Regions from separate parts of the Homo sapiens genome. Here region 1 is linked to region 2. The links come from fine-mapping of genetic effects on gene expression. Tissue or cell type: tibial artery. Region 2 holds a variant in brackets; the other region holds the start of a gene. All regions are shown on one strand. Distances are between the middles of the regions.

The links. PIP is the estimated chance that this variant, and not a neighbour inherited with it, causes the effect.
Region 1: it holds the start of ASAP1, and the variant in region 2 is fine-mapped to the expression of ASAP1 in tibial artery (GTEx, PIP 0.97).

The regions. Positions count from the first base shown.
Region 1 is chr8:130,441,657-130,446,805 of GRCh38, forward strand. ASAP1 (ArfGAP with SH3 domain, ankyrin repeat and PH domain 1) reads right to left here and starts at 2,018. Exons shown (of 30, transcript NM_018482.4): 1 at 1,804-2,018. RefSeq lists silencers at 1,573-1,652, 1,703-1,862, 1,873-1,962, 2,003-2,102.
Region 2 is chr8:130,329,930-130,335,078 of GRCh38, forward strand. The region is part of intron 3 of ASAP1 (ArfGAP with SH3 domain, ankyrin repeat and PH domain 1); the gene reads right to left. Among named protein-coding and RNA genes, the nearest start is that of ASAP1-IT1, 36 kb to the left of the region's middle. RefSeq lists a silencer at 170-219 and an enhancer at 3,421-4,000. The variant C/T (reference allele first, on the strand shown) is at 2,714.

The sequences.
Region 1 (5,149 bases), 110 kb after region 2:
ACACATTCATCTTTGGGCCTGCCAGGCTTGCACTGATTTTGAAAATCTGGCTCGCTGTGGCTGGTGAGGACTGGGGAGGTGTAGAGAATTTCAATTTCCCTCACCAAATGGCAAGCTTGCGAAAAGTCCTTTCTCTCCAACATTATCACATACTAAAAATGAAAAACCAGCCATTCAGAGCTCTCATGAGAAAAATAGATGGGCTGCTTAGCTCACAAGAAACAGGAGGGCTGAAAATCAAGTCTAGAGAACATCAGAGGGTACATTATGTGCTAAGATACTGCCCTTTTTTGGACCTGGGAGTTTCTATTTTGCACAAAAGAATGGGATAGGGAAAGTAATTCCCCGTATAATAAGCCACTCATTTTATACTTCAAATCCATTTGGTAGCTGAATCTCCAAATCCACTTAGTGGCGTTAGGTGATTTTTGTTTTTTTTAACTCCCTATCTCAAAATATGCAGTTTGAAATAAGTGCATATCTCAAAAATAGCAGCATTAACAGGACAGAAGAGAAGGCACTAAAGTGGTGAAGGCTGTGACGCAAAGAAGACGTTTCCAAATCTGTTTCATGGCTAACAGATCAAAATCTAACACAGAAGGGGCATGGGACTGAGCCTGAAGAAGTGGAAACTACTCCTGGCCATGTGATCTTGGGCAAGTCAGGTCACCTTTCTGGGCCTTCTCTGAAGGGGGTGAATCAGTTGTTCTCAAAGATCTTTTTCTTTCCAAACTGTTCACTGGGTGTTTCCAGAAGACCCGCATTTTCTTAAAGCTATCTGGCCGCGCTACAATTGCAAAACAGAAAGGCTTTGGGATGAAGGTTGCAATACAGATAACCCTGGCCTAAAAACTGATAAGCTTTTACAATCCCAAAACATTACTCAGCAATCCAGGTCCTGATGTCATCCCAGAATCAATCACGCCAAGATAACCTAACAGAGTAGACAGGGGAAAATGCGAGAGAAAGTTCTTTTGCTTTCCTGACGAGTACAGGTAAAGTTGAGGTCAAGTTAACGATGATGGTCTGCAGTTGACCATCCTTCTCCCTGAGCTACTGGAAAACCACATTATTAAAGGAAACTGCTTTAGAAGTGCCCAAGATGAACCTCTTGGGATGTATCAAACCGCAGAAAACCGGACACCGGCAAGTTTCTTTTTTCTTTGAAACTTCATGTCGCTCTCAGAAAACGCAGCAGGTCCCAAAATGGTACAAGCAGAAAACACAAGCCACTTCACGGTCCGCCCAGGAGCCAACCCCAAGCTCCAAGTAGGACTCCCCCCACCCCCTTCCCTTTCGTTTCTCTTCTTTTGCTTTAGGCAAGTGGCCTGGGGCCTGCCAAGCAGCGCCGGGTCCGGGTAGGGGCCGGGGGCCGCGGGGAACTTTCCTCGGCTGCACCAGAGACAATGCCGGGAGGGCGCCCCATCGGCGGGGTCCGGGCCGCCAAGCACGTCGTCCCGGGCCCTCCCCCGGAGGGGGACGCGAAACCCCCCAGGGCGGGCCCCGTCCCCGGCCCCACTGCAGGGGCCCCCTCTCCCGAGCTGGAGGCGAGGAGACCTCCCCCCCCCACCGGGCGGCCTCGCCCGGCCCCGCAGAGCCTGGCCGCGCGTCCCGCACACGCCCCAGCCCAGGGCCGGCGCCCTCCCCGCGGAGAAGGACACCCCGCTGCGAGAGGAGCCGGGAGCCCGCCCCGCGCCCCGTCCCGGCGCCCTTCTTCGCGCGAGAGACTGGGCAGGGGGCGCCCGCGACTGTGGGCGACTCCGCCCGGCCCCGCCGAGCGCGCCCGAGCGCCCCGCAACTCACCGGGACCTGGCGGGCCGCTGGGCATTATTCCATCGCGGGTTCGGCCGGGCGCTCGCGGCTCTCGGGTGGGAAAGCGAACTGCGACCGGGAAGCGCCGGCTGGGCGGGAGGCGCGGGCCCGGGGCTGCCCAGCGCACAGTGCTCGCCCGCGGCAGCGGCCAGGCCAGGCGAGGCGCGGGAGCCGAGCGCGGCGCAGGAAGGGGCGGGCGACCATGTGCCGAGGGGGAGGAGGCCGCGGCGACGCGAGCGGCTCGCACGATCCCGCTCGGCGGCGGAGGGCGCGGGTTTCAGGAAATCCAAACACTTCGACAGGAAATCGGAATCCTGACTAAGCATTCCCGGCCCCGAGCCGCTCCGCGCCGGGGGCTCCCGCCTCGCTTAACCCTTGGCCCGCCGGCAGCCACGAGGGGGGCGTGGGAGGGGCCCCAGACCTCGGCCGGGGTCGGGCGTCCTTCGCCTTCCGCCCCATGCCCCGGCCGGCCGGCCTCCTCCCCGCCTGAGGTGGAAGGGGTGGGATTTATCCACAGAAAACCCTGGACGCGGAAGGTGCCTTTCTAAGGCCGGGACAGCGGCAAAGGACGTGCCTGTCTTCCATCTGCAGAGGATGGACCTGCACTGTCCTGGCCGTTACCCCTATTTTCAGTAAAGGAATGATTTCACCAGGCTGCCCCCTTTCACCACTTCCTCTCTGCTCTTATAATTTTATTTTTGCCCAGTGCCAAGGGAACAGGACCTTCCCAGTCAGGATAGTATAGGAACAGTATGGAGAGTAATTGTGTGGGCTGCAGGCTCTGTGTCCGGTTGGAATATGGCCTTTTTTCTACTCATGTTACCTTGAGTAACTCGCTCAACTTTCCTGAGCCTCAGTTTCCATTTATGAAATGGATGTTAATTCCACCCTCATAGGTTTGATCTGGAAGCTGAATGTTTAGACAGGGACTGGCACATTGGAAACGCCCAAATAAATGATAGCCATGCTTGTCCTTATTATTACCATTAAAAGACATCAGAGAAAGGAGGATTTTAATTTGTGGGATGTATATTGTGCATATCTATGTCTACTTTCAAAGTCAGAGACAGTAGTCTTTCTTTAGAACTTAATTTCCCTCCTAATCATTGGGTGATTGTTTTTCTTTGCAGCATTTCAGAAACGGCTCTCTGCAGAGGAAATGGTTAGTGGCTGTGGCAGACCCCCTTCTGGTGAAATCCGAAACAGAAAACCTCACAAAATTTGGGATTTTGCTCCTAATCTGAGAGTCTGGGTGTAGTGGGGAGTGGGGGTTGTTAAACAGTCTGGAGCGGATTTACAAAGTTTGGGAAAACCAAAATCAATCTCTGACTGGGCAGAGAGGTCGGGCAGCCAATGAGTGATTCATTGTGGTTTCCCACGGAAATGCCACATTTCGGGGGTGTCTACCTGGAGGATGCAGCTTGGTGGTTTTGCTGTAAGTGTTTCAGATTCCTTTGAAACCCAATCAGACTTTGAAGAGGGAACAACATGCTCATGAGCGAAAACAGAAGCCTGAAATGAACCTGCTGGGAACTGAAAGTTGGGTACCAGCTCGTTTACTCCAAGTAAGGAACAGATACCAGTTTTAGACCCAGCATTGTTCCTTTTCTGCAATTCTCTCTCCGTGGCCAGAAGCAGTAGGACAGCTCTGAGCTGGGCACCAGGAGTCCCAGGGTCCTGCTCCAGGCCCACTGTAGCTGCCGTCCCCTCTGCCTGGAAGAACCCTTGTATGGCTGTTCTTGGCACGCAGCTCACAGCCCAGAAGTCAGCTCCGCAGATAGGTTTTCCCCAACCATGTGATCTGCTTGTCTCTGGCACCTACACCCCACCTCCACCTCTCCCAAACATAGCGCATCCTGTTTGATTGCTTCATAGCCCTTGTCACTGTTTAATGTAGCCTACATGATTGGTTGCTTATTTTTTATCTGCCCCCCACTCTCCCCACTGCATGGGTAAACTGCATTACAGCAGTACCTTTGCCTGTTTCCTTAGAACAGTGCTGGCCCATATGAGACCATCGATAAACACGTGTTGAATAAATGAAAGAAGCAAACAAACTAGAGTTGCAGATGGGACCTCTGCCTGAGGTAGGGTGGTTCACTCGGTCCCGCAGCTCCCTGTGGCTTCCTCTTTGGTGGAGAGATTCAAAAGGGAACGCCCAGTGCGGTGGAAGGAGCACCAGATGGCTCTATTAGTGCTTCTGGAAAACTAAAACTATAAGTAGGCCAGGCGCGGTGGCTCACGCCTGTAATCCCAGCACTTTGGGAGGCCGAGCAGGTAGATCACCTAAGGTCAGGAGTTTGAGACCAGTCTGGCCAACATGGTGAAACCCCGTGTCTACTAAAAATACAAAAAATTGCCGGGCGTGGTGGTGGGCACCTGTAATCCCAGCTTCTCCAGAGGCTGAGGCAGGAGAATCGCTTGAACCCGGGAGGCAGAGGTTGCAGTGAGCTGAGATCATGCCATTGCATCCCAGACAGGGTGACAGAGTGAGACTCCGTCTCAAAAAAAAAAAAAAAAAAAAAAAAAAAAAAAACCTAAGTAATTAAGACTGTCAAATGAGGTAACTATAGTCTCATTGGTATAGTCCCAGTTAATTACTCCCTCCTTTGTGCTTCCTTGGCATTTCTGTTTAAAGAATATATTTGTCATATTGTATACTCACTAGATGACTGTTCTCCTAAATCAGATGGAGGAAAGGAGTCCACATTTGTTGACCACTTGCTCTGAGTGGGTCCCTGAGCAAGGTGAACTTGAATTCATTTTAAGGCATCGGTTAAGTGCCTGTAATGTGCTAAAAAAATCTGGGCCCTACATGTGCAATGATGAAAAAGAACTATTCTTGCTAAGAAAGACAGGAAAGCTCTATCTAGTAAGCAGAGAGATAAGTACTCTTATAGAGTCATGTCCAGGGTATCCAGGGCTATTCAGAACATTGAAGGTGGAGTAGGGTGGAGATAAGTTGGAAAATGCTTCCAAGAAGTGGGTGCTCTTGAACGAACTTTCAAGGAGGAGATGGGACCTATGTAGCTAGATAAGGGGGCACAGGCCTGCCAACCAGAGTAACAAGCGTGAGTGTTAGTGATGCTCGGCTCCATGTCCCCTGGGCCCACCTCTGAGCTCACCGGCAGCTGCAATGAGCTGCCCTCTGTACAGAGAAACTGTCTATCCAAAGCAGGCCCCCTTTCTCCTCTCTACCAGGAGGCTTTCTCAAGGGCTGTGGGATCTTGCCTAGCCTGGAAGTTTCCAACAGCCCTGGGTCAGTCCTTAACCAAACAGTGGATGAATGTGTCAGCCTCCCCTTCCCTAAGGAAGATCAATTCTCAAATGCTCTCAA
Region 2 (5,149 bases):
GCCCTGAATCACCATTTCCCTCCTGTCCTGCCCCACAAAGGGAGGGATGTTTGATGTTACAGCTAGTGTCACAGCTTTCAGGGAGAGACAGTTGTAATCTAATTCCTCAATTTGTCAAACAGGACATTTTCATTACAGCTGGACCCAGCTGGAAATGAATCACTCCCACACACGTCCCCAACAAAACATAAAAGGCATTTAACAGAGAAAGACACACATGTACTGTACACAAACCCACAAAGACAGAGAGAGAGATTGCTTCATCAAACCAAACTGAGTAAGCATGAAACCGTACTACCCATCTAATGGGAGTCTCCATTCCACTTTGCATTTTCTCACCCTGGGTCTTTGCTCAAAAGGTGTCCTCTGCCTGAAATGTTCTACCCATCTATTCCTCAGGTCCAGGTCCGAAAGGACCCTGTAAGATTTCTCCAGTTGGAACCTGTCATGACCTCATGTGTGCTCTCAGAGCAATCTGAATTATCACAGCTCTGACCGGTCTATGCTATATTGCAGCTAACCTGGCACCCCACAACCACCACCCCATTCACCTGTGAACACCTTTGGGACAGAAAGCATGTCTAATTCATTCTGTTACCCTTCCCTCAGTCATCTACCAAAAACCAGGCACATAGTAGGTGCTCAAATGGCAGAATCATGTTAAACTGTACTTAACTCATGTGAGGCCTTCATGAGCATTTAAGGTTTATATTGCCAAAGGCAATTTGTCTTACGGGTAAGCTTTACGATGGATCATTGTTTCCTTTCCCAGTTTAAATGTGTGTAGGTATCTCTATGGGGAAAGGGACAGAAGACAGGGTTCTATCATTTATCTTTTGTTGCCTTCTGGAAATTTTGCCTGTTTTTACATATAATCATTCTTAAACCTATAAAAATGCCCCGAGCTGAAAATTTTAGGTGAAGCCATGAAGAATATACTGAACCCAATTCTACGATTCTCTGGGATGCTCCTGAAAGTACAAACAAACCTCCTTCCACTTCTAGCCTTTTTTTCTCAGTAGCAGATGATATGGTGTACCAAAAATGGGCTTTGGCATCAGAAAGACCTTAGCTGTCCATTGGCCAGACCAGCCTTTCCAATGCTCAGTTCCCCCAGCTGCAAAAAGGGAATAAGATTACTTCCCAAGCAGATGGACATAAAGAATAGATAGGATATAAAAAGAGCCTGGAACCTAGCAGGCACACATATTAAATGTCAGCTAATCTTAAGTGTTGTGGGCTCCAAAGTTAAGGAAAGGGGGCATGGCTATTTCGAGTGGAAAGAGCGAGTAGGGCCCTATTACCCCTTAGACCATTCTCTGGAAGGTTAGTTGACATCACAATGTCATCTTGCTCTTAGATCCATCCTTCTGAACCATGATGGAACTGCCAAGCCCAGAGCAAGAATTCCATGGAAGCAGTCTGGAGAGAGAAAGGAACACTGGCTCTGAGCATTCCTTACTAACTGTGTCAACTTGGTCAGTTTACTTCACTTCCCTGGGCATCAGCTGAAGAAAACGGGCCCAGAATGTTAAGTAAAGCAAGTCACACAGTTGCTTAGTCCACAGACTATGGAATCTGGCAGGCATGAAATCCAGCCTTACTTCCTGCCTTCCTTATTATAGTGGAGGAAGTTACTTAATTTTAGAGCCTTTTCTCATTTGTAAAAAAATAGGACGTCCACCCACATCAGGTTATCATGAGAAAAGTATTAGATAAACATGTAAAGAGTTTAGCACAGTACTGTTACCTAGTCAAGAGGTGCCAAGCCCTCAAAATCATGTAGCTAGTATTTTATTAGCAACATTAAAAATACAAGCAAAGCATTTAAAAAATACACCCCAAAATTCACAGACATATCTAGAAACACATACACACACACATGCAAACACACAATGCACATCAAGTGGGGAGAATGATCAGAATCCACAAAAGCTGAAAAATGGGGAAACTGAGGCCCAAACCCAGAGAACCATAGAGCAGATCCCCAAATATTTCTGTGTGAAGTCTCGGCCCAAGGTCTAGGTTTGCTTTCTCAGAACCACTAAATCCAGAGAGAATGATGGAATACACAAAATTACAGGGCTTACACAGAGAAGAGAAGTTATCACTATGGCTACTATTTCAAATCCAAGAGCAAGCACCTCTCTTGGAGGCCTGTTAACTTGGTTTTGGGTCACAGAGTAAACATTTCATGACCAACATCTGAAATTTTCCATTCAACTTTGAAGAAACAGTCTGATTTGATGGCACTTGTGAAGTTTACAGCTTCTGCTCTGCATCTTTCTGGTGCTTTTCAATGAAGATGTTGAGTGCTTGTTATCATTACAGGTCTACACCATATCACCAATGGCAGGGAGTATAATGAAAACTCTGTCTTTTTTCCTGCTGAAAGAGAAAACCTAATTTCACCCAGAAGCCCATCCACACCACCTGCACTTTTTGAATATTCAATCCCACTTCAAGTTAAATAACCATTTTTATGATCATTTCTGTGATTATGTCATTGTACTTTAGTTTACAGTTTCATTATTTGTACACTGTCAAATAAAAAATAATACAAAGAACATCTAATTTTACTTCAACACTTCCAAAAATTTCCTAATCTCCAACCCCAAAGTGGAATTCAACATCAATAGCAATGCTTTTGGAAATATTCCAGAATGCAAAACAACTTTTCGTTTTCTTATTAGAAACTCTGGATTTTTTCCCT[C/T]TTCTGAATGGCTGAAAGTAGAATAAAAAGGCTGCTTCCTTAGTTAATCTCAGCCTGATTTTCTTTCTACTTCTCTTATCACTTTCTTCAAGTAAAAGGATAATCTTTATTAATTTTCCAACCTGGAAGAAGCCATTAATATGTCAATGACTGATTCTAACTTGAAAGCACATGCAGCACAACAGGCACAATTTTCATTTTATTTTTGTAAAAAAAATTTTAGAAAATATTTCTATATAAAAATCTAAGAAATCTATAACAGCTAAAAAAGAAGTTTTTTTTTTTAAAGGGAAAATAATACACTGACAACTTATCTAAGGAAATTCTATTCACATTACAGAAAGAACTAGCAGCAGCAACATTCACAGTGATTCAAGCACAAAGCGGTTCAATCTTTCATATGGAAATTCTGTTTGGAGGCGAAACCGTGTCATGCTCTATTTTGGGTAAGTAGCTCTCAAAACTCAAGGGGGAATTACAATTATATATCTACTCCATACTACCTTATTATCTACTCCTTATTTCCTAAGCACCCCCAACCCTAGTCCAAATCAGTTGGATTTAAAAGGCTATTTTATAAAGAATTATAAACCAACATGTTTTAACTCTAATCATCTTTAGTTGATGGGATTACTTGAGATTTTTCATCTTTATTTCTATAGTAAAAAGGCATGGCTGGCTGGGCGCGGTGGCTCACGCCTGTCATCCCAGCACTTTGGGAGGCCGAGGTGGATGGATCACCTGAGGTCAGGAGTTCGGGACCAGCCTGACCAACATGGTGAAACCCTGTCTCTACTAAAAATATAAAAAAATTAGCCAGGCATGCTGGCACATGCCTGTAATCCCAGCTACTTGGGAGGCTGAGGCTGGAGAGTAGCTTGAACCTAGGAGGCGGAGGTTGTGGTGAGCCAAGATCGTGCCATTGCACTCCAGCCTGGCCAACCAGAGTGAAACTCCGTCTCAAAAACAAAACAAAACAAAACAAAAAACAAACGGCATGGCTGTAACAATTTTTTTAAAGTATGGCAGGGCATATTGCCATCATGAAACAGAAAGGTTCATATACAAGTCACAACACCAGAAGATTAATATTTTCGCCAATCATACAGATAAAATTATCAGACTATTAGATGCATTTATTCATTCAGTAGTATTTCTGGAGGGCCTATTATGTGACAAGCAGCATGCAGAATGGAACACCATGCCTATCCCCCAGAAGCTGAGATTACAGAAGAGACTCACAGCCATCAGGGAACCCCGTGAAGCCTCATGGGTGTTGGGCCACAGTGTGCACAGAGCAGCTGGAGCTGCAAGGACTGGGCTGCCAACTTCTAATGGGGACTGGGGAACAGGGAAAAGCAGTAGTTAGGAAGGGTCTCTTCAGAAGGTGACATCTGAGCTCAGTCCAGAAAGATGAGTAGGTGTTCATCTGGTACAGGAGGAGGCAAGGAGACGTGAAAATGCAAGAGGCTTCCAGTTTGCTTCTGCTCCTTCTGGCAGCAGCAGAAGGCAGAGGACTCTAGGTGCAGCTGTTAAGGAGAGTGGACATTATCCTATAAACCACAAAAAGTTGCTGAGGCACACATATAAAGAGGTACTCTTTGATTTTCAGGTAACAACAACAACAAAAATATCAAGCACATCAAATATGTTCCTTGGGTAACGGAAAAAGAAAAGCACATGATGAAATATTATTACAAAATGCCAGCTCTTCATTCATTTCTATTAAAGTCTTCTACAAACCTCACAGCCTCCCAAAAGTTCTACTTGTGTTTCACATAGATTCAGCTAGAGTTCAGAGACAATATATATGGTCTCTTTTTAACTTTTAAACCACAGGATGAGTAACCAAATTTGAAAAGAACTTTATGCCATGAAACAAATACAGTTATCTTCATATTATTCTACAGTTCTTCACAACCATTCTGATAGCTTAAAGCTTGCTTCTAGCTGTAGCATGTAACAGAATATACTTTTATTTAACAATTCAGAGGGAAAAAAACACAAGATGAATGAAAAGGTCTATTATATTTCAAGTGTGTAGTGATTTCCTGTTTCTTTCACACTTTTGGCAGCCATGTGCCATGTCACAGAGTACTTTTTATACTACAACATCAACAAAAATCTCTTTTCAGACTCTGGAAAAACTGGGCATCTCTCTCAAATACCAACAGCTCTCCATTTAATAATACAAAACAGCAATGTGACTAAAAATCATCATCCCACTAACAAAGTACCTTTGTCATAAATAAACCCTCCCTTTAGATTATCCAAATACATATCAGACCTCCAACCCTCCTTTCAGAATATCAAGCATCCCTCCTTGTCTTCATTGCCTTCCTGTGCTTCCTGTTCTTCTTCCCCAAATTCTCTCTGGCCACACTGCTCTGTCACTGGGTATGAGACGGATTAACGATCACTGATTTATTCTCTCCT